3 linked regions of the Homo sapiens genome follow. The protein of the gene in region 3 interacts with the protein of the main gene of each other region in a pairwise test. Each region holds a gene or a part of one and is shown on either strand. Other genes may lie near its edges.

Region 1 (7,024 bases), on a different chromosome or scaffold from region 3:
CACCTGCTAAGCTAAGGTTTTCAGGGACACAGGGAGACTGCCCTGATGCAGCAGGGGGAGCAGAGAGGCAGGGCTGGATGAGGTCGAGGGAGCTGTCCAGGGAAGGACGATGGGGCAGCCCTTATTCACAGGGGATGGGTAGGTCTTGTGCAGTATCATTTGGCATCTGTTACCTACTGTTCCTATTTCTTTGTGAACCTGCTATGTGTAAGGCCCAGTGCTAGGCATTTATATATACAGACTCTCTTCCCCCATGTTGTAAGCTTCTTGGGGGCAGGGAATGTGCCATACGTTTCCATATCCCTAACGCCTAGCATGATGCCTTCCAGAGAGGTGCTCATTTGTGCCCTACCAAAGGGTTCACGGAAGGATGCAGAGGTAGAGCTCACTACTGCTCACAGACACACCACATTTGAGGACATCAGGCAGGTGCTCTTGGGGGTCCACCAGGTGAGCCACCTCCTCTTAGGAGCTGGGGCTATCTATACAGGTTCATCTGGGCTGTGGTGGGCGTAGTAGGAGCACTGCCCCAATTTCTTCTGCCCTCTTCCAGGCAGAAGTGGCTATGTGGCCTGGCATGGTGGGCTCCTTGGCTGGTTGGCGAAGCGTCTGCATGAGATGCTATCTCGCCAGCTGAGTGGGGCCTGACTGTGGGCAGAGCCACGAGAAGGGAGGGTGGCGGGGCTCTCTCTTACCTTTCAGCATTTGCCACCTGAGGCACCAAGCACAGATCAGCCATGGTCACCTGAAAGAGGTCCCGGTGGGTTCCCATCAGGGTGCATACCCCAGAGTCAGTGGCTGGACTGGGTGTGTCCACTGCGACTCTACTGGGGGTACCAACAATCTGCTTCGGCTCTTTCACCCATCCCACCTCCAATTCTTGTCTGCCCTAGGCCTGCATGAGTCTGTCCCCCGGAGCTGAAGTGCCCTCCCAGGCCATGCTCCAGTTGCCCTGACAACCAACTCTGTGGGTTGAGAGGGCCAGAGAAGATGGATTGCCTTGACTGCGCAGACATCATCTAGCACAATCCCTCAACTGATGCTGGCCCGCCTCATCCTCTCACAGCCAGTCTTCTACCTTGAGTAACTCCCTCTTAAGACGGTTTAGTGGGAGTGAGCTGAGGAGTGCCCCATGGCACAGAGATCCCCCTGCAGACGCCTTCTCAGGAAGCTCTGAGCTTGAGGGAGGTCAGCATGAGGGAGGCAGCCACTGTGGCTGGGCCTGGGGAGGTCTGGGGACAGCTTACCTCGTCTCCTACACAGTATATGCCCGCTGTGCTCTGTAGGATCTGCTCCAGGGCTGTGGGGAGGCCACATAAACATCTTATTCTGGGCGCAGGGAGGGGACACAAAGCTTTCTGGGCCTTGGCCTCCATAGTTATGAAATGGGCGCCCAACTGAGTGACAGACTGGGCATGGCTGCTGGTGAGAATGTGGCAGCCAGGTCTCGAGAGAGCTGTTAGGGATGAGCTGCTGTTTCCTGAGGCTCCGCACAGACAATCACCATTTCCCCACTCGAGTGGACAAGCCCTGCCACTGGCCACGGTGACAGCTCTCACTCTGATGGCTGGCGCTGTGCTGGCCTTGGTTTCCCAGCTGGAGTAGGCAGTGAAGCTGAAGTTGGGCCATCCAGCTATGAAGGGCTGTGGGCTCAGGGACCGAGGTTCCCAGAAGTGCTGGAGCTAAGGTCTGGATGCCCACCCAGCCCATTGCCTCCCCAGTCCTGCCCTCATCCATGCAACTGTCAGGCCCAAAGCAGCCTGGGAGGCTGGTTCAGATACCCAGGCCCCTGTGTGCGAGGGCCATACCTCTAAGAGGCCACTGTGGGGCAGCTCACAGAGGTGAGGACTCACCGTTAAAGCCACAAGTGATGGCGTTCTGGGCCCAGGTCAGCTGCATCTCCTCTCCCACTTGCTTCAGGACAGACAGGTTCTGTGCAGCCCAAAGAAAATCTGTGATTGCGCTGACAGCTGGGTGGGGGCTACCCCTTCGCCAAACCCCCTCAGGGAAGTTCACTTCCCATCTGCCCCTGGCTGGATGTCTATCCCTTCTCCCCCAGGCTCCATGAGCCCCTTCCTTCAACCAAGGGCCCTGAGGTTGGAGGGAGGTAGCCATCCCAGCAGCCACCTTTGCAGGCTGCCCCAGTGGCCTCAAAAAGCCACGTGATTCTGTCAGAGATGTGCAAGAATCCCTATTCATGTGACACAGGACGCGGCCATGGCTGTGGCAGGTGTGCCCACAACTCGAGGCCTGTCTCCCTCACTTCTCCCTTGCATGGTCCCTTGTGAGGAGAGGGAGTGTGAAAGAGGGTGGGGCTGGGATGAGGGAGGTCCACAAGACCGGCTTCCAGAGATTTCCAGCCTGGCTCCATCTTGGCACCCCTGGAGCCATTTTCCCTCTGTTTCCTCATTATAAAATGGAGATGTCTGTCTGCTCCAACATCCTTTGTTAAAGCGACATGCGGGTAGAGGGCATAGGCATGCAGGGATTCTGACTTAGTCCCCACTTTGTTATGACCTACCTGTGGGACTCCTAAGTCACTCCACCTTTCTGGGGCTATTTCCTCATTCAGAGTAGAAGCTGGCACAGATGAACTGTTTTTAATACTTAGTTGTCTGTTTTAACAGTGACACTTAAAAAATAAAATCCTACAAGTATCCCAGTATATGACTGAGATAGCACAGATGAAACGGAAGCTGCTCTGGTTAAAGGCAGGAGGCCTGGACTGGGGCCTGCTCAGTCTCTCCCCTGCCATTCTGGCCCTTTCCCCACCCCAAGCACCTGTACATGCGTCCTTGGAAACTAGAGCTTCTCGGAACGCAGCGGGGGACCCGCTGGGGGGCTGAATTCTGAGATTGCGATCTTCACCCCCTTCTTTCACATGGTCCAGGTCAGAGGCCCTGAGAATCCCCCTCCCTCCCTTGACACCCCCGCCCCCACACTGGGCAGCTCACAGCCAATGTGTGAGTGTAAGAGTGTGTCAGGTGTGCAAGGGTGCAAGTGTACAAGTGCCACACCTGCAGGGGCTGGATGCCACCAGCGATGAGGTCAGAAATCATACGCACGCTGGCCCTCTTCTTTGGGTCCTGAGGCAGAAGTCGCGGAGTGGGACGCATCTCCTCTAGATACTCAATGATGGCCAGCTGTCCAGAGGGGAGCAGTGAGGCAGGGAGAGGGCCCAGGACCCCTGGACCAGAGGGGACAGGGCCAGCAAACTCCTCCTTCTCCTCTTCCAGCACCATCACTACACCTCTTCCCCCCTGCTTCTGCTCAGCTCAAGCCCTATAAGCCTTTTTGGACCTTATCATGCAGAACTTGGTTCTCCATGTGCTTGAATCTTCCCTTATTTTCCTAAATAACCTCGCACCCTCCCCACGAGTCTTGTATTGAGCCTCTCCTATGTGCTAGGCACCTTGACTGTACACAGGCGAGGAAGAGATGTCAGGCGCTCTCATTCAGGGCACTGCTCTCATGAGGGCCCTCCCCCAGGCCCTGCACTCACTGACTGGTGAATGGTGATTCCATCAATCTTCAGGGTTGGCACCTGCTTCATAGGATTCAGTGCCTGGAAGTCCTTAGAAAACTGTGGAGACAAGGCCCTGGTGGGCTGGGTGGCCTGGCCTGAGTTGGCCAGAGGAAAGCCAAGCAAGCAGGAGAACCCCAGGCCTGCCACCCACCCCCATCTCCCTTCCCTGGGAAGGCCCTAAATCCTAGGCCCAGGGTAATCCCTGGGGGATCCATGCAGTCTCCCAAAGCCCAGCTGCTGCTGAGCCATAGGCTTCATCCTAACAGCCTGGCTATGGGCTTTCCCTGCATCTCACACCGTGGCCACCAAGGCAGCTCCTACCCTAGTCAGCCATCCAGAGGGCCCAGTATGGGGTGGGGACCCACTAGCCACCCACCCTCCCAGGGTCAGGCACTGGAGAGCCCAGGCTAGGGTACACAGTCTGGACCTGGGCCCTTCCCAGGCCTCCTGCTACTGCACACCTTGCCACCTTGTCCCACAAGGGAGAGCCAGCAGCCTCCTGCAGTGATAGTCCACAAGACACAGGTTCACTTCTCTGGGGCAGAGCCTCCCCTTTTTCCCCTGCCTGGTGCCTGTTCAAGGCCTCCAATTCCCACATTGTGGTCTGGGCACAGCCTTCTTACCTGTTGGCCCCCATCCTTTATGAGATTGATGGGCACCGTCTCGTAGTCGATGCCTTTCAAGGCCAGAGCTAGGAGAGACCGCACATAGCGGAGTCAAAGAACAGCCTCTCGCCGTACTCTTAAAGGAAAGAGCCCTTCTAAGGTGACATTAAGGCCAAAGAGGGGGAGGCTTCTCTAACACTTCTGGGTGGTCAAGGCTCACCGTGGCACTATCCCCTTCTCTCAGCTTTCCTTGTCACCACGTGCTCCCTACCCCAGATGCACGATGCTCTGCCTCACTCACCCCTGAACTCTTAGAGACCTCAAGATCTGGACCCCCCCAATGGGGCCCTCATGCCCCCTGGATGGTGATAAAGGTGTATGCCCTGGCACTCTGTGGGCTCCTGGAGTTCAGCAAGGCTGTGTTGTGTTTAACTCTGCCCCCCCAGGGCCTTAAACAGTGGTGACCAGTGTCTTGGTTGAAGACATGCAATTACTCCCTCAAGAAGGCAACTAAGGGCCAAGGGAAGGAGCTCAGGTGGCCACACACAGCACACACAGACAGATGGCACTCTTGTTCTGTTGGAGAAGAATCTCTTCCAATCTATTCTCTCTGTTCTCAGGGCTGTTTACTAGAGATTCTAGACAGGCATCAGGCTCTTTGGTGGCCTCAGAGCATTTGCCGTGACTCCAGTCACCAGATTTCCTCTCCATCCCTTTTGATAATTTCCCCTGGCAAGCTGAGGGTAAAAAAAACTTGGGTGGGTCAACACTAGTGGAGAAGACTGCGTGCGTGTGCATGCATGTGTGTATTACACACACTTGGGCATTCAAGTATGGTGATGGCCAATCTCAGGGAAGGGCAAAGGAATGAGGGGAGGAGGACCAGACATGTCATGGTGTGGAGAGCCTGGGCAATACCAGGCTCCTCCTAGTGTTGGTCAGCTCCAGTCTGGGGAGTGACAGTGTTTGGGGCTGGAGGAGACACCTGGAGGAGGGAAGGCCAAAGCACACAGGCCGTACAGACAGCACCTATATTGCTCCGGCTTCTGGCTCAGCCAGGGCAGAGGTACTGGCGCCCAGGGATGGGTTCATCTTCTTGGAGGAAAGTTTCTCCTGGCACCCAGTGCTCTTGCTTACTGATCCCAGCAAATACCAAGTGACTATGGGATGGAGGAGGGGTCACGGAGGATGGCTTTGCCTCCACACTCTGGAGGCAAGCTTCTTGGGTTCAAATTTCATCACAGTCATTTGCTAACTGTGTGGCCCTGGGCAAGTAACTTAATGGGCCTCTGGAGCCAGACTACCTGGTTCAAATTCCAGTTCTGCCTCTTAGTAACTGAAAGATCTTGGGCAAGTTACTGAATGTTGCCTGTTTTTTGTGCCTCAGCTTCCTCCTCTATACAATGGGGACAGTAATAATAGTACCTCCCTCCTAGGGTTGCTGAGGTTTAAATGGAATCAGGCACACAAAAGCACTCAGCACAGAGCTTTTCCTCAGTACAGGCTGCTTTGGTTATGACCTTTGCCAAAGGCTGTGTTAAGCCAAGGGAGGGAAGGGTCAAACAAGGACTAGCCACAGGGCCCTTGTTTCTGCTTTTCTGAAGCCTCCGAGGCTGATGCTGGCCCGTTCTGTTTGCTTTGCCAGTTCAAATAAAATAAGAACTGAGAAGGGCCAGCTGTTCCCCTGCCAGTTACCAGGGGCATGTGGATTTTGTGACCCTGCTTTAAACATGGTTGCCAAGGGGCTTTGGAGAGCAGTGTTGGGAGAAGTGTCAGTCCCAAGGGAAAAAACAACCCCCTTCCTCCCACCCTCACCCTGTGTTTCCGGGGTGGAGATGCCATGCAGGGATGGGGGTTCTAGGAGCCGGGGGATGCTGGTTGCTGGGGGTGAGGTCCTCTCTGACAGAGCAACCCTTCCATCCCAGGCCAGCTTTGCACCCGGGCTTATCCGCCCCAGTCCACCCCACTCCAGCACTCATCCTGGAGGAGGCACATCTCTTACCAATTCGAACTCTCCATGAGCAGGAGCTTCGGAAATAGGAATAGAGGATGGGCTGAGGAGAGAGAGGATGAAGGCGCGTGTTAACCCATGCTGGGTGGGCTCCAGCTTGGGAGGAGTCAACCATTTCTTCCTGTCCTGCCAGGCCTCCTCTCTCAGGCCTGCATCTGTGCAAATCAGGGCAGACTCCAAGCTCTCTGAGAGGCTCATGAGGTCCCTTGGCTCCAAAATTATGCTGGTTTGAGCTCCTGAGGTCCAAGAGGCCCCCAAAGGGGCAGCTAGCCTGAGAGTGCCTTCCATACCTTGCCAGACTCTGTCATGGTATCGTGGTGACCCTCAGCCTCCCAGGAAATGTCCCCTCTGGCACAGCTTCTGAGCAGGGAAAGGAAACCTAAAGGGGTGGATTTCAGGAGCCAATGGGGAAGCTGGGCTACCCAGGCATTGGGGGAACTTTGACTCTGGTCAGAAAGGGCATTTCTGGCCAGGCACAGTGGCTCACGCCTGTAATCCCAGCACTTCGGGAGCCAAGGTGGGTGGATCATTTGAGGTGAGGAGTTTGAGACCAGCCTGGCCAACATGGTGAAACCCTGTCTCTACTGAAAATACAAAAAAAAATCAGCCAGGTGTGGTAGTGGGTGCCTGTAATCTCAGCTACTCAGGAGGTTGAGGTAAGAGAATAGCTTGAACCTGAGAGGTGGAGGTCACAGTGGGCCGAGATCGCACCACTGCACTCCAGAGCGAGACTGCGTCTCAAAAAAAAAAAAAAAAAAAAGGCATTTTTTTCCAACTCGCAGGAAGTTTCTTACGCTCCTGCTGGGGCCAGGTTTGGTGTCCCCCCAACAGAGCGTGGCCTGGTTTTGATGCAGTATTTTGAGTGGTGGAGCGGGCTGGGAG
Region 2 (7,788 bases), on a different chromosome or scaffold from region 3:
ATCCTGCCTAACCACCTGACCGCAAGGCACAAGAGCATCCTTATCATACCCTGCTGGGCAAAGGCGCAACTGAAGGAACATCCCCATCATATCCTGCGGGGCAAAGGTCCAAGAAACAGCCTATCACATCCCGCTGGAAAAAGGTCCAAACCGCCTGATCACAGGAACATCTTATCAATATCCTCCCGGCGAGCTAGCCATACTGCCCAGACCCCCACCTAGACCTATAAATTACGCCAGCCTGTAAGCGGCAGGGGGCTCTGGCATTAAGCTTGTCCCCCACCTCCTCAGGTCTTGTGCTGGATGTAAAACCTGTGTTGCCATAGAGCCACCGACTCTCTCTGTGTCTTTCTTTAACCCTTGCCTTCCCTTCAAAACCTAACAGTGGGACCACAGGCTCTGGGCTGCAGCTGGGTGTTCTCATCCTCCAGTGTGGATGGCTCACAGCAGAACTGAGTCCTAATAACCTCTTGTGAATGCTGCAGAACTCTCTCTCTGTCTCTCTGTCCCGCTCCCCCAACTGCTGCACGAGTCCAGAGATGCAGCTGGCCAACACCACCCAGAAGGACCCCAAACAGAACAGCTGGCTGTCTCGGAACATTCCCGTGGCTCCCTCTGCCCTGTCCCTCTCACCGTGGCTCCTGGAAGTGCTCTATGGCCTATTGAAAGGACGCCCCTACAAAGCTTCCCCTGGTTCCCCCACCTGAAAAGTGATTTCTCCTCTTCCAAATTCTCACACACTTTATCTGAACCTTTCTGAAGACACCTGCCTCACTTGCTAGTTTGGCCAATGTTTATGGAGTTCTCTGCACTGGAGGCTGGGGGCACAATATAAGACATGGCTGGGTGGCAGCAAACATAGCATATGTGTGGCCAGGGCTGTCACTGAGACACGCAGGGACATGGGGATGATGTCTCTGCCTGGAGAAGGCTTCACAGAGAAAGTGCCACTGAACTGCCTGGGGACCTGGGGGCTTCCGGGCGCTGTCCGACTCCACTCTCTCACCACCCAGTGGCTCATTGGAGTTCTCTCCTGGGGCCGGAGCATTGCTCAAAGCACGGTCCACTTTCAATCCATCTCCCTGCCACCCTGACACCTGCACACTCAGAACAGAGTCAGCACTCACAGCATAAATGAATGGATAAAATACAGCAAAAAGAACAAATTGCTTTCTGTTCTCTTCCCCCAGCAACTTGAGATCTTCTAGAGACCCAGGAGTATGTTGCTTCTACCTCAGACTGGGGAGAGGGGAGCTCCCCAAAACGATGGAGGAGATGAAGATATCAACCAGCCAAATTCCTGTTCACGACCAGCCTGTTGTGAGCTCTCCTGGGGGATCAGCAGTGGCTGAGAGGTTGGATGTGTGATGGAGTAGGGTGGGTTTATGGAGAGTGTTTGTTCCAGACATGACACAGGGGAAGGGCTCACAGGGTTCAACCTGATGAGCAGGTGCAAAAGATAAGGCCCCTATTAAGGCTAATTTGCTGAGATTTTCATTTTAGCAAAAACAAATGATCAGTTTTTTGGATGTCTCAAATATGTTTGAAATTTATGTGTATTCTCTATGGTTGGGCATGAATTTATGAATGTATGTGTGTATAAATAAATTTAAGTGTGTCCTTCAAATAGTTTATATCAGGAATCAGCAAATTATGGTCTTTAAGCCAAATCCAGCTGGCCACCTGTTTCTGGAGGTTAGTGTTTATTGGACACAGCCATCATCATTCACGGGGACTTGTGTCTGGGGCTGCTTCTGGGCTGTGGCAGCATCTGCCCGCCCTGCTCTGTGCCATTACTGGTGTTTTGTTATCTGATGGCTTTGTGAAGTTCCTGGGCAGACTCTGCCAAAACCTGCCAAGTGATATAAGTTTGTCAGTTTCCATTAATTTCTTTCAGTGTTTGCTTTATATAATTCAAAATTGTGTTCTTATGTGTATAAGGATAGGACTATTATTGCTGGGCCTGGTGGCTCACACCTGTAATCCCAGCACTTTGGGAGGCCAAGGAGGGTGGATTACCTGAGGTCAGGACTTCGAGACCATCCTGGCCAACATGATGAAACCCCATCTTTACTAAAAATACAAAAATTAGCTGGATGTGGTGGCGTGCACCTGTAATCCCAGCTACTCTGGAGGCTGAGGCAGGACAATCGTTTGAACCCAAGAGGAGGAGGTTGCAGTGAGCCAAGATGACACCACTACACTCTAACCTGGGTAACAAGAGCGAAATTCTGTCTCAAAAAAAAGAAAAAGAAAAAAAAAGAATAAGACTACCGCATCTTGGTGACTTGCACACTAATCAATAAGAAATATTCTTCTTTTTCATTTAATCCCTTTTCTTAGAATTCTTTGTTGTCTTGTATTAATATTGTTGTCCCTGATTCCTTTTGTATTACTTTTCCTCTGTTCCTTTTTTCTAAACAGTGATGATACATAACTCAAAATGAATCATAGACCTACATGCAAACACAATGTTACAAAACTCCTAGATGGTAGCATAAGAGGAAATTTGATCATCTTGGTTTTGGTGATGACTTTTAGATGGCAACACCAAGGCACAATCCATGAAAGAAAGAATTCATAAGCTGGACTTCTTTAAAATTTAACATTTCTCTTTGTGAAAGATATTGTCAAGAGAATGAAAAGATAAGCCACAGACTGGGAGAAAATGTTTACAAAAGACATATCAGACTTTGTATGTTATCCAAAACATACAAAGAACTCTTAAAACTCAACGATAAGAACACAAACCAAACAATTAGAAAATGGGCCAAAGACCTTAACAGATATCTCATCAAAGAAGATACAGAAGGTGACAAATAAGCATATCAGAAGATGCTCCACATCATATGTCCTCAAGGAAATGCAAATTAAAACAACAATGAGATACCAGTACACACTTATGAGAATGCCCAAAATCTGGAACACTGGACAACAGCAAATGCTGAAGAAGGATGTGGAGCAACAGGAACTCTCATTCATTGATGGCAGGAACACAAAATAGTACAGCCACTTTGGAAGACAGTTTAGTGCTTTCTTAAAAAACTAAACATACTCTTACCATAGGATCCAGAAATCACACTCCTTGGGATTTACCCAAAAGAAGTGAAAACTTATGTCCACACAAAAACCTGCATACACATATATATGAATATATGGCACAATGGTGAAGTCTGGGCTTTTAATGAAGCCATCCTAAATAGCATGCATTGTACCCACTAAGAAATGTCTCATCCTTCACCCACCGCCTCACCTGCTGCCCTTCACAGTCTCCAGTGTCTATGATTCTACTCTCTACCTCCATCTGTATGCATGATGTAGCTCCCACTTACACATGAGGTTGCACAGTATTTGACTTTCTGAGTAATTTCACTTAAGATAATAGCCTCCAGTTCCATCCATGTTGCCGCAAAAAGCGTGATTTCATTCTTTTTTTATAGCTGAGTAGCATTCCACTGTGTGTGTGTGTATGTATCTTTTGCTGTTAAAAGTAATATTGCCATCACATGGGGAACTGGGAGAGGGAGAAACAGGTCCCCCTGGTTACATAGGTACTGACGAGAAGGAAGTTGAAGAAAGATGATGGGTGGAGAAAATAGGTCCCACCTAGGGAGACATCACATCAGCTCTGTGGAGCCCCAGAGTGCTTAAAGGGCTGGCACTAAATGAACCTGGAACTCTCTTGCACCCTAAAAGGAACATTGCAAGGGGGTAGCAGAAAAAGTCCATTTCAGTGATTCATCATCTCCCTTTCCTCACCATGCCCCAGGGATTCCCATGCCTTCCCAACCCTCTTGCCCCTACCTGGGTCAGCCTTTCCACAGCAGGTTAGGGCACATTATAGCCAAGGGCACAACTCCCAACTCCTACACAGGCTGTTTTGCATAGGAGGAGGAAAAACACTGAAGACTTTCTGGGAAGTTAGTGCCATGGGGCAGGAAAGAACTTTTCCCACTCCCTGCCTCCAGGCTCATTCCATGGGGGGGTCACTCCACCACTCAACCTAGATAGTGAGGCCCCTGACCCCAGTCCCCCCACCTAATTCCAGGGCTTCTGTGAGGGGCTGACCAATGGTTAGCAATGAAGTAACCCTGCTTCCCTCCCTGGACTTTGAGTTCCCATAGGGCAGACCCTGATGTGACCCAAGACCTATAGCACAGGGGATAAGAGTAAGGATTTGATTCAGGCTTTTCTGAGTCCATATAATGATTTGTTGTGTTTACTAGCTGAGTAAACTTGGGAACATCTCAACTTCTCCTTTCCTAAAATAGAGATTGAAGCACCTCTTAGGACTATGAGGGTTGAGGAGGATGCAGGAGCAGCAGGTATCTTGATATCTAGACATTAAAATGCTCAGTCAGCGGTGGGGGTCATAGAACAGGCTGTCATAACAAATGTGTGGAAGGATAAGGGGAGGGAACAAACAAGACCATGCTGCCTTCAGGAGTCTGAAACTCCATCCTCTTTGGGTCCAGAGGCCCAGTGCTCTTTTCTCCCATTTTCTGACCTGCTACTACACATGTACCGCTGCCTTACCCTCAAATCAAGGTTGAGCCAGAGAAGACTCCAGGTGAGGTCTCTGGGGTGGGGTGGGACCTGGTGACCTGGGACACTGGCCAGAAATCCTGAGCACAGCCTCCTGGGTGTGTCCCACCCACCTGATGTGGGGCAAGCCTCCAAGAAACAGATGACAGAGGTGGCCCCAGGCCTCCCAGCCCCTGGGAAGAGCCAGGCTGAGCCTTATAAAGGACTGCTCTTTGTCCAAACACACACATCTCACTCATCCTTCTACTCGTGACGCTTCCCAGCTCTGGTAAGTCTCACCTGCCTCTTTGCGTTTTCTAGAAGTGCCCAGTGCCTGGCCTGCCATGCTGCCTGTAGGAAGGGAAAGGGCTGTGGACAAAGACTCAGAAGCCTGGGTCTAGGCCAGCTCTGCCATTAGCTGGGCTGTGTGACCTTCACTTGACCCCAAAAGCCCACGTCTGTATAACCAGGTGGCTGAACCAGACCTGTCCATTGCTCCTTTGGGATCTCCTGAGGCAACTCCTGTGGAAATGTCCCCAGTGGGACCTGAGCACAGGACCCTCCCTGTCCTCTTCCTCCCTGGATTCATCCTCCTGTTGGGGTCCCGGTTGCTAAATCCCCTCCCCAGCTCCAGCTCCACAGAGGGTGGAGGGCTAGGGGTCCCCTGTGAATGCTTTGGAGGCTCTCCAAACCCCCAGGCCTGGGACCCCGACACAGCATAGCCCTGGCCAGATGGCTTGCCCCTACCTGGGTAAGGTATTGAGAAACCAACGCTCCGTCACTCCCTACCACAACCTGCAAATTGTCAGTCACCCTCTGGGCACAGGGCTTGCCCTCTGGCCTTGGCCTCAGATTCAAAAAAGCTCTGGGTGGCTCCTCTTAGTCAGTTGCCGGCATGGAGCTTTCTCCTGCATTGAGAGGTGTTGGGGGTTTATTGTCAGACACCCATATGCATTAGCCAAGGTCCTTTCCTGGTTCTTTGGAAAGTGTGGGAAGTGAGAACTGCACTGTCCTATTTTTCAGGCTTGGGGTGCAGGCCAGCCCAGACTGACTACTGGCTGAAAGATCTGCTTTGGGAAGTCAGACATTTTTATTTAAACAGTCAAGGCTTGGTGATTCAGAGGGTGCAGATAATTCCCAAGAGCAGACATGAAGTGACTCCCACCTCACTCCCACCCCGTCCAGCAGCTTAAGAACCAGAGAGTTATTTCTGTTCCTTGTAACAGAGGCCATTCCTGTTTCTCGTTCCCAAGGGAATACAAGAAGGGCCCCCTGTGCTCGGGACAGGACTGTGTTTCCTGCTAACACTCACGTCCACGCTCACATGTGCACCTGGAGCCTGCACACACCGTGTCATGCAGGGCTTGCACTTGAGTCAAGGTGGGGCCCACGGTGTCTGGTTCCTGAAGCAGCCGAGGAGGGTCAGACACCAGATCACCAAGGCCATTGTCCTGCCCCCATGACTGTCACCCCGACTGTGAAGCTGGAGGAGATGGATTTGGTGCTCTTTTAAGAGTGGGGTCTGCCATGTGCTGGCTGAGGCTGGGGTGTCCCAGCTTAGTTCTTCCATGTGTTGCTGGCGCCCGACTCTCCCTGCTTCTCCCTCTCTGAAGCACTGTCCACAGCTGGACTTCCGCCATCCACCTGCATCTCCTCTTGGCCCTGGCCAGGATGGGCCAGGTCTCAGACTTGGTCCTACCCTCTCATTTTTGAGCAACTTATCCCATCACATTAAAAAAAAATTGAGTTCGTTCTGCTACACCTTATCCGTGTTTTTACTCTGTCCTCAGCCCTCCTTCCAGCACTCCCAAATAGAGACCCTAACTTAAATGAAGGGAAAAAAATGATTGTCTTTATTTCCTGAAGGCTTTTTGAAAGCAAAGATGAGCAACACTCAAGCTGAGAGGTCCATAATAGGCATGATCGACATGTTTCACAAATACACCAGACGTGATGACAAGATTGAGAAGCCAAGCCTGCTGACGATGATGAAGGAGAACTTCCCCAACTTCCTTAGTGCCTGTGTGAGTCGGTGTCTAGCTTCTCAATGTTGGAGGATACATTTTGCTATGTGGCCTTGGACAGATCACCCTCACCCTCTGATTAAAAAATTTCCCATTTGCAAATAGGGCTTTATTACTTGGATCATATGTGAATCTAAGGATGGTAGGCAAAAAAGTATGAAAATGGGAAAGAGTTATACAGATATAAAGGAGGTTATTAGATGGTCAGCAAAGTGTGCAGCTTGAGGGCAGTGCACAGTCCCCTCCCAGCACTCACTGACCCTCTCTCTGTGAGACTGAAACTCACATGCTCAGGTCCTGTTTCCCAAAGGCCCCACATCAACATCCCTGAGATTACTGGGAAAGCACTAGAAGTTCCATTGTTAGTAGAAATCAATAGCCCTCTTTGCAATAAACAAGACTCATTAGCAAATCTGAAAAAAAACTGTGGGCTACTAGGTACCAAAGGGTCTAGATGACCAAGAGTAGGATACCCAGAAGATGAGTTTGGTGGAAAAGGAGAAGAAAGGAGAGGAGGCCAGAGAAAGAAGAGAACAAAAGCATGAGGGCCAATTTTGAGGCCCTGGGGTAGAACTAAGGTAGGCAGTGCCCTTAGAGGCTGGGACGGGAAAGAGTGAGGCTGGGGCAGGGGACTGCTCTCCCCAAGGTCACTTAACAGAGCACCTTGGGACAGGACCTGCCTCCCATCCTGAGGTGTGAGACAAAAAGACTCCCTAGAGAACTCCAGGGATAACACTCACGTCCTCACCCCAACTTCACCCACTCACCCTGTGCTCTCAGCCCCGCCACCATGCCTGTGCAGATCTAGGTACTTGTCTGTATCTCTGCCTCCTCCTCTCCCTCCCAGCCCAAAACTTGTTTGTGATTGAATTTTTCTATTTTGTATGTTTTTCTCTTCACAGGACAAAAAGGGCACAAATTACCTCGCCGATGTCTTTGAGAAAAAGGACAAGAATGAGGATAAGAAGATTGATTTTTCTGAGTTTCTGTCCTTGCTGGGAGACATAGCCACAGACTACCACAAGCAGAGCCATGGAGCAGCGCCCTGTTCCGGGGGCAGCCAGTGACCCAGCCCCACCAATGGGCCTCCAGAGACCCCAGGAACAATAAAATGTCTTCTCCCACCAGACACTTGCCTTATTTTCTTCTTCTCTTTGGTGACCTACGTTGTCAAAACTACCAATTCCAGGTTAACTTTGTTGGAGAATTTCCCCCACCCCCATCCAGTGGGTCACCCAGG
Region 3 (7,024 bases):
CAAGACATTTACAGTTACCAAGAGGGCTTATGGATCATAGAGATTTCCAGATAGGCTTCCGAGTCTTGGTATCTTAGAATGTAAATTAATATTTTTAATTATTTTTTCTCTCATTTTATTGTGATTTTTTTCCCTGTAATTCTAGGTTGACAATCACTCCAATTTTTTTAGGCAAATAGAAAGACAAACTACTACCTGAAGATTCATAATGCTAAGAAACTCATACAGAGTTAGCCATTCAGAGGGAATGGAGTTTTGTTACTTACTTTGGCCAGTTATAGAGATGTTATTCCACTTTTTATCAGGTAGCTGAAAATTTTAAAGAATTACAACTTTTTATTCATTGACCACAATTTTTGTTTAAAAATGTTTTCTTTTCATCCTAAAAGTACATTGTAGGATCATGCAAATCAATGACTGTGTATAACAGAACTGAAAAATTTTATTCAAGGAAAAAACTAATATTCTGTATGTCAGATTGGAACTTTGTTAATTGAGCTATAGTGAAATGGAACCTGGAAATTTTATATTTATATAAATCTCGAAGTCTGTTAGAGATACCATTATGGGGGCAGATTGCATTCAGAGAGGCATACATATATATCAGACCTATTTTCATGAATTTCTATAAGTGAACTAATATTCATAATTATTTGTAAACCTAATTAAGATGAAAGTCACTTATAGTTTTCATATATATGAGAAAGTGATAATTCTGAATTTATTAGAGACACTGTGTTTTAGTTGTCTATCTCATGCTTCCATATAAAGGGCAGACAACTAGTAATCAAATTCTCTTTCCCTAGAAATCTATAATGGAAACGGAGTTAATAATTGGTATATAGAATTACATTTCATTAAACTTACACATAATCTTAAATACTAAAATGTGTATTAGAACAAAATGAGAAGCTGTGTTCTGTAGAAATTTCCTGTCAAGATGTCTAGACTTGTAATTATGAATTCTATTTCTATGGTTGGAAATAAACAGGTATAATCAAGAAATTATCGCACCTCAAGGTGAAAAGGTATACAAGTGATTTAGAGCTTAGTCAAAATTTCAGTTGAATTTCTTCCTATATTAAAAAAATAATAATTCCCTCTTCTTTCCCACCTTCCTTTTATCCTAAATCTACATAACCCAATGACAGGGACTAGTAGACAAACAGATCTGTCACCTTTGCACCCTCTATAAACCTTTATCACTGGAGCATGTGCATAAAAACGTCCTTGGCTCCTGCTCTGAAACTCAAAGGACAGCTGCCTTTCTGCCAATGCCAGGATGTTACCAACACTTCTTAGCCTGAGTCCCTTTCCTCTACCCCGAAGGCTCCTTGACTCCTACAGAAGTCTGCCTCTTTCCCTAGGTGTTTAAGTTACTATTATTGCTCTGTTAGGTGGATAATGCCATGTGCTAGTTTCTCTTATCCCTCATCCCTCCCCTGTTCTGTGAGTGAGATGTTCTCACCTTCCAGGCCCTGATCCCACCAATCCAAAGCTACCTGGATTTCTCCAGAAGACTGCATGTCTGAAAATAATCCTGGCAACATTCTTTGAGTTGTTAAGTGAAGCACCTGGCTTTCAACAACTTTCTTAAAAAGTAGCCTGTTTTAAAGAAACAGTGTGTGAGAAGTGTAGATGATTACATAGATAAATTCTAGAAATGAGGCGGAAGAAAATGCCTCAGTTTATTTGGAAAACAGGTTATTTATAATTTTCCAACTACAAAAGGAAAAACAAGATTTTATGAATTTTGAAACAATTCGTAAAGACCCCCAATAGAATTGATCTAACAAAAAGACTGTCATGTTATTATATTTAGTACGGCACTTGAACTAGAGTAGATGCTCAATAAATATTTGAGTTGAATTGAGTTATGCATTTGTATAAAAAGAATTCTGAGTAGAGATTTATTTGATATACGCTTTCTCCTATATGAAATTTGTAGGACAGTTTTCTGTGCTCTTCAGGACACTGAAAACAGTAAAACCGTGTGAGACAGTGACTATAAATAAAATAGTGTCTGTTTCTGCTGCAATTTAGTGTAGTTTACTTTTAGGTTATTGTAAAGAATTGGATGATTTCCAAAGCCTTTTTGAGAGACATGGCATCATTAAGAAGACTAACATAAAATCCTAATATTTACAGTGTACCCACCTTCTAACAAATCTAAAAAAAAATGGAAATACTCAAATGTCAAAATGAGTTGCAGTGTGGCCTGTGGTTCTTCCAAAAAACAATAGGGCAAGCCCAGATGACCTGTTACATTTATTGAGCTGTACCTTGGAAAAGATTCATATAATTTTATCTCCTTTTAGATTGCCTTACATAATTTCTGACAACAAAAGTAAATGCCATGGAATTAAAAACTATTTGACTGTTACACTGCATCACAAAGATGCCTTCGTCCTCCATGTATTGCATATTGTTTTCCTTCCTAAATGGTAGTGACCTGCTTAGGACTCAGCAAATACCTTCAAATGGTTCGCAGGATCTTATCAACAGGTGTGAGGATAATGTGCCGTAAAGCTAGCAGAGGTTAACACTGCTGGAGAAAAGGAAGCTTGGAAAGAAAGTACATGGCATTCTAGGTCCTAGAGCATGCAAGCATGTATCTAGGAAGTTGAAATCCACTGTCACATAATTGTTGGAGATATTCATGAGTGAAATTGTGTCACCTGAAACATAATGATGATAGGAAGTGTCAGAGTTCACCTGTAAGTTGTCAGCCTGCAAGTCATATTTTATTTCTCTAGATCTCATTAGAAGTATGTACTTCACTATACTTTAGTACAGCAAACAACCATTTATCTGGAATATGGTTAATAGTCATTAGAAACAGTAATTCTCAGTAATTCTCTGAACTTTAGTATAGCAAACAACCATTTATCTGGAATCTAGTTAATGGCCATTCGAAAACAAACACAGTTAGAACCAAAATGATTCTTAATATGGTGGCAATCCAGAAAGCACTGGCCACCTTGCATGGTCTTTGGCTTATCATAGTGGACATTGATTACCACTTACAGTAGCGAAGCTCTGGAAGGGGCAGAAAACTGATTGGTCAGACATTGATATGATACTCTAACTTATCCTGGAATTTGCCCAAAAAACTTGTCAGTTTGCTCCTATTGTGTGGCTTTTTCATTCAAAAGCAAACATTGTATGAATGGTTGCTATTTGTGGTTCAGTTTGAATTATGATTATGCTTGCATTTACTAAAATAATATGGCCAATGTTCAGAATAGAAGGTTATGGTGATGATAACTTACAATTTAAAACATAGCCATAGACTACACAGATGGGCATTAATGCCAATCACAAAGCTTTACTCATCTCTGGAATTGTACTAAAAATAATAAAATAAAATAAAATAAAATAAAATAAAATGAACAGGAATAGATTAAAACAGTCCAGGGCAATTATCCAGATAATTATGGAGAAATATTTTTACTCTGCAACAAAAAAAGCAAAAAAATAAGAAGTTTAATTTTTCAGCTTAATTTTTCAAGAATTCTTTTCTCAGTTTATTAACATATTAAATAATTCCCAGCTTTTTGCTTCACATTGTCATACCTACTGGCAGAGTCTGGAGTCTAGGAGTCCTTTTCGTAAAAATTCTGGAGGCATGGCTTTGCCATCTTTTGGGTGGATACTGGTTAGGGCAAAACCACAAATGGCAGATATGTATTCCATGGGACTTCTCTCCCAGCAGAGCTTCCATCTTGCTTCCTTTCAGGGAAACTCTTTTAACAAATCCTCTGCTAACTGCAACTTATTCCAAACTATAATCTTGGTACATATCATGGCAAATAGGGGAGGAAAAAAAGTTGTCCTGAGAAATGTTGGAGGAATATGGTGATGAATCTCTGCAAAAATAGGACAATCTCCAAAAACTGGGGCAATTATGCAATAATTAGTAAAATAATCCCGAAATAACAGCAAAAACTACAAGTGCCAACCTTCAGTAGGACGTTGACTAAGGCTGGCCTGAGCCAAGCTATTTTCATGTTTCAAAATCAACTTTAAAGAAGGTCGAGAAGCAAAGGACTTGAGGTTACTACGGTGTCCTGAAAGGATGCCTCAAAAGAAATGTTTAAAGATATTTTAAAACATGAGCCAATAGTTAGTATATTAAGAAGTTATCCTTAGTAAATTAATACATCTCCTCCTTTCTGTGGGAAATGTTAAATTCTCTTACTTTACTGAGGGCAGGTACATCTATTTCACTATTATAGTAAGTGGCTATTACACTATTATCGTAACATGAAGGAAAGGATACTCCTGTATGTGGGATCGTTATGATACCATATGACAAACTGAGTGATTAATATTTTGGTCAAATTAATTGAAAAAAATACACTTTGAGAATTTGTTATGTACATAGCATTTTAGTAGGTACTGGGGGCAAATAAAGACACATACTTTGTACTTTTAAGCAATATGTAACCTCTCTGGGAAGAAAAAACATGTAAAGCTGAGTAACTATCAGAGGTCATATGCAGCTAATGAGGACACTGTTTACCAGTGCTAGAAGCTGGGGACAGGTGGGCAGCTGTGGGCTACTCAGTGTTGTGTAGGAAAGACATTGCCTGCTTGGTTAACTGAATTCAACATTTATTGTTCCATTTTATTCATTATTCATTTCAAAATAATTCTACTGTGTGTATTGTAGCAATTAAGTACTTCACTCATGATCATACAACTGGTAAGTGAATTAGTCGCTTTTTGTGTGTGTGTGTGTAGACAGTTACCAACCTAAATCTAGGGAAAGGCAAATGTATAAAAAAAATCAAATTCTGATAATTAAAGATAATTCCATCTATGGTTTAGAAAATCTCGATTAAATATAACAAAACAGGCAATTAGGAACAGAACGTTAAGATGGAAGAATAAACTTTCTGAAGTCAAAGACTTTAGTTAACTAGATGTTTGCTTAGAGTACTTGGCCCTGATAAAAATAATTGCTTTCTGATGTGTTTGTATTCTCCCAGCACAATTCTGTTTTATTTTGTTTTATTTTTTGGTGGCAATAGATGCAAAAGTTTTTTCTTTACCCGTCTTCTTCAGAGAAAGACATTTTGCCCGCAGATGTTTCATTTCCAACGATTCTCTTGTTCTCACTCACCTACATTCCCACAGCAGTAAAATTAAAGCAAGGCTCAGACATCTAATCTTCTGTGCTCAGTAATACAAGCCAGACAGATGAAATTTCAAGAGTTCATATTTATTCCAGGGATTGTAGATTTAGCCATTTCTTATTCTGAGTCCTAAGGATGTCTTATTGCTTTTCCTCCACCAAAGCTCCCTATTGTGGTGAGGCTGGAGAGTGCCAGGATATTGACTTCCTGATCTCCTATTTTCTGACATATATATTATGCTACCATGAAAAAGCAGACCAGGCCAGGCACGGTGGCTCACGCCTGTAATGCCAGCACTTTGGGAGGCCAAGGCGTGTAGATCACCTGAGGTCAGGAGTTGGATACCAGCCTGGCCAACATGGTGAAACCCCGTCTCTACTAAAATTACAAAAATTAGCCAGGCCTGGTGGCGGGCGCCTGTAATCCCAGCTACTTGGGAGGCCGAGGCAAGAGAATCACTTGAACCCAGGAGGTGGAGGTTTCAGTCAGCTGAGATCGTGCCATTGCACTCCAGCCTGGGCGACAAGAGCAAAACTCCATCTCCAAAACAAAAACAAAAACAAAAACAAAAACAAAAAACAAAAAAAAAAAAAACCAATTATCTATTCATCAAACTCTGTTCTGAGTAGGAGGCACCATGGAGAGGGAAAGAGCACTGGTCTATGTGGTATCAGAAAGATTTGGCTTTGAATCTAGGTTCCCCTTTTTTCCTAAGGTGATTTAAAGCAAACTGTTTAATTTTCTCTGAGACCCTCTGTCCTCATCTGTAAAATAATAAGAACAAATCCAGCTCAGAGATTTTGCAATTGTTTTGAGATTAAGATAATGCATTTGAAATTGCTTTGGAAATCTTAAACTATTACCCAGATAGACATATTATTATTATTACCACTCAGTAATATAAAACACCTAGAAGGCTTCATCAGCTTTACCACTAATAATACCCTGAGGCATTAATAAAGGTAATTTTTCTCCTTTTTTCCCCTCCCCCTAGCACCTTCTACTATGAAGTGCTTCAGACATTAGAAAATGTGGCTTAATGAAAACTGAGGGGTGGGGGAAGCCTAAATAAAGAATTTAATAATGGCTGATTGATTTAGTGACAAAGAGAAATTGCTGGTGTTATGCTGCTCAGTGCGATGCCAAGATGCTAGTTTTTTCTTGTCATGCTGAAAAGGTTGAAAAGTAGAGGGATATGACCTATTTGTCATTAAGTTGATCTTTGCACTGACTGAAAGCTATGGTAGAGGAGGAGATGCTGAGAACCCCAGCAAAGAAGCATGGGTCAGGTAGTCACCAAAAAAATTGCATGGCCAGAGGCAGGAGAAGAAGCTTCTCTGATCTAAAAAATTGAGGGGGCTCCTGATTGCAGGCAGGGTGCCACCCCTCCACAGTGTGGCAGGACAAGGCTCTTGTCCTCTTTCTGGTCCAGGAGCATGTTTTGTATTGGGCTGACAGGGAAGCCTTAAGTGAATGTTATATTTAAATGATGCCATTATGGCACTTTGATGACTGTAAATGTAGATATAGGTAAAATAAAGCAGCATGGTCTATGCCCTTGGGAAATAGTTTGATTTTAACATATATTATTGTGCACCCACAGTGTGCAGCGAACAGTATTTGGTGCTGAAGATAGAAAGTGGTATCAAACAGTGAAAGAGTTTTTAAGCTAAGCTTATATGTCTGGGGCCATAGAACAAACACTGAAGCACTATAATTTCAGAATATGAGAGAGAGGGCGCTGAGGTCTCCAGCAGGTCAAGACAATCTTGCAGAGCAGGGAAAGCTGGTGGCGGGCCCAGAGGAGGGCAGAACTTAGGTGAGGTGAAAAGGAAGGGGAATGTTCCCCTAGATTTAAGTGAACATAAAGCATCGGAGTGTAC

What was found. Proteins that work in one complex are often made in the same cells at the same time.
Region 1: the proteins of CLVS2 (region 3) and GSTZ1 interact in binary tests that used the Homo sapiens proteins (3 or more experiments, as listed by UniProt).
Region 2: the proteins of CLVS2 (region 3) and S100A7 interact in binary tests that used the Homo sapiens proteins (3 or more experiments, as listed by UniProt).

Annotation. Positions count from the first base shown.
Region 1 is NC_000014.9:77,324,031-77,331,054, reverse strand, and holds part of GSTZ1 (maleylacetoacetate isomerase), read right to left. Parts: intron 6,517-7,024; exon of another isoform or gene 6,451-6,516; coding exon of another isoform or gene 6,433-6,450; intron 6,186-6,432; coding exon 6,134-6,185; intron 4,218-6,133; coding exon 4,150-4,217; intron 3,584-4,149; coding exon 3,503-3,583; intron 3,144-3,502; coding exon 3,018-3,143; intron 1,933-3,017; coding exon 1,854-1,932; intron 1,301-1,853; coding exon 1,248-1,300; intron 746-1,247; coding exon 696-745; intron 1-695.
Region 2 is NC_000001.11:153,457,633-153,465,420, reverse strand, and holds S100A7 (protein S100-A7), read left to right. Parts: upstream 1-4,769; 5' UTR 4,770-4,813; intron 4,814-6,390; 5' UTR 6,391-6,407; coding exon 6,408-6,548; intron 6,549-7,450; coding exon 7,451-7,615; 3' UTR 7,616-7,677; downstream 7,678-7,788.
Region 3 is NC_000006.12:122,999,230-123,006,253, forward strand, and holds part of CLVS2 (clavesin-2), read left to right. Parts: intron 1-7,024. UniProt on the Homo sapiens protein: Required for normal morphology of late endosomes and/or lysosomes in neurons. Binds phosphatidylinositol 3,5-bisphosphate (PtdIns(3,5)P2).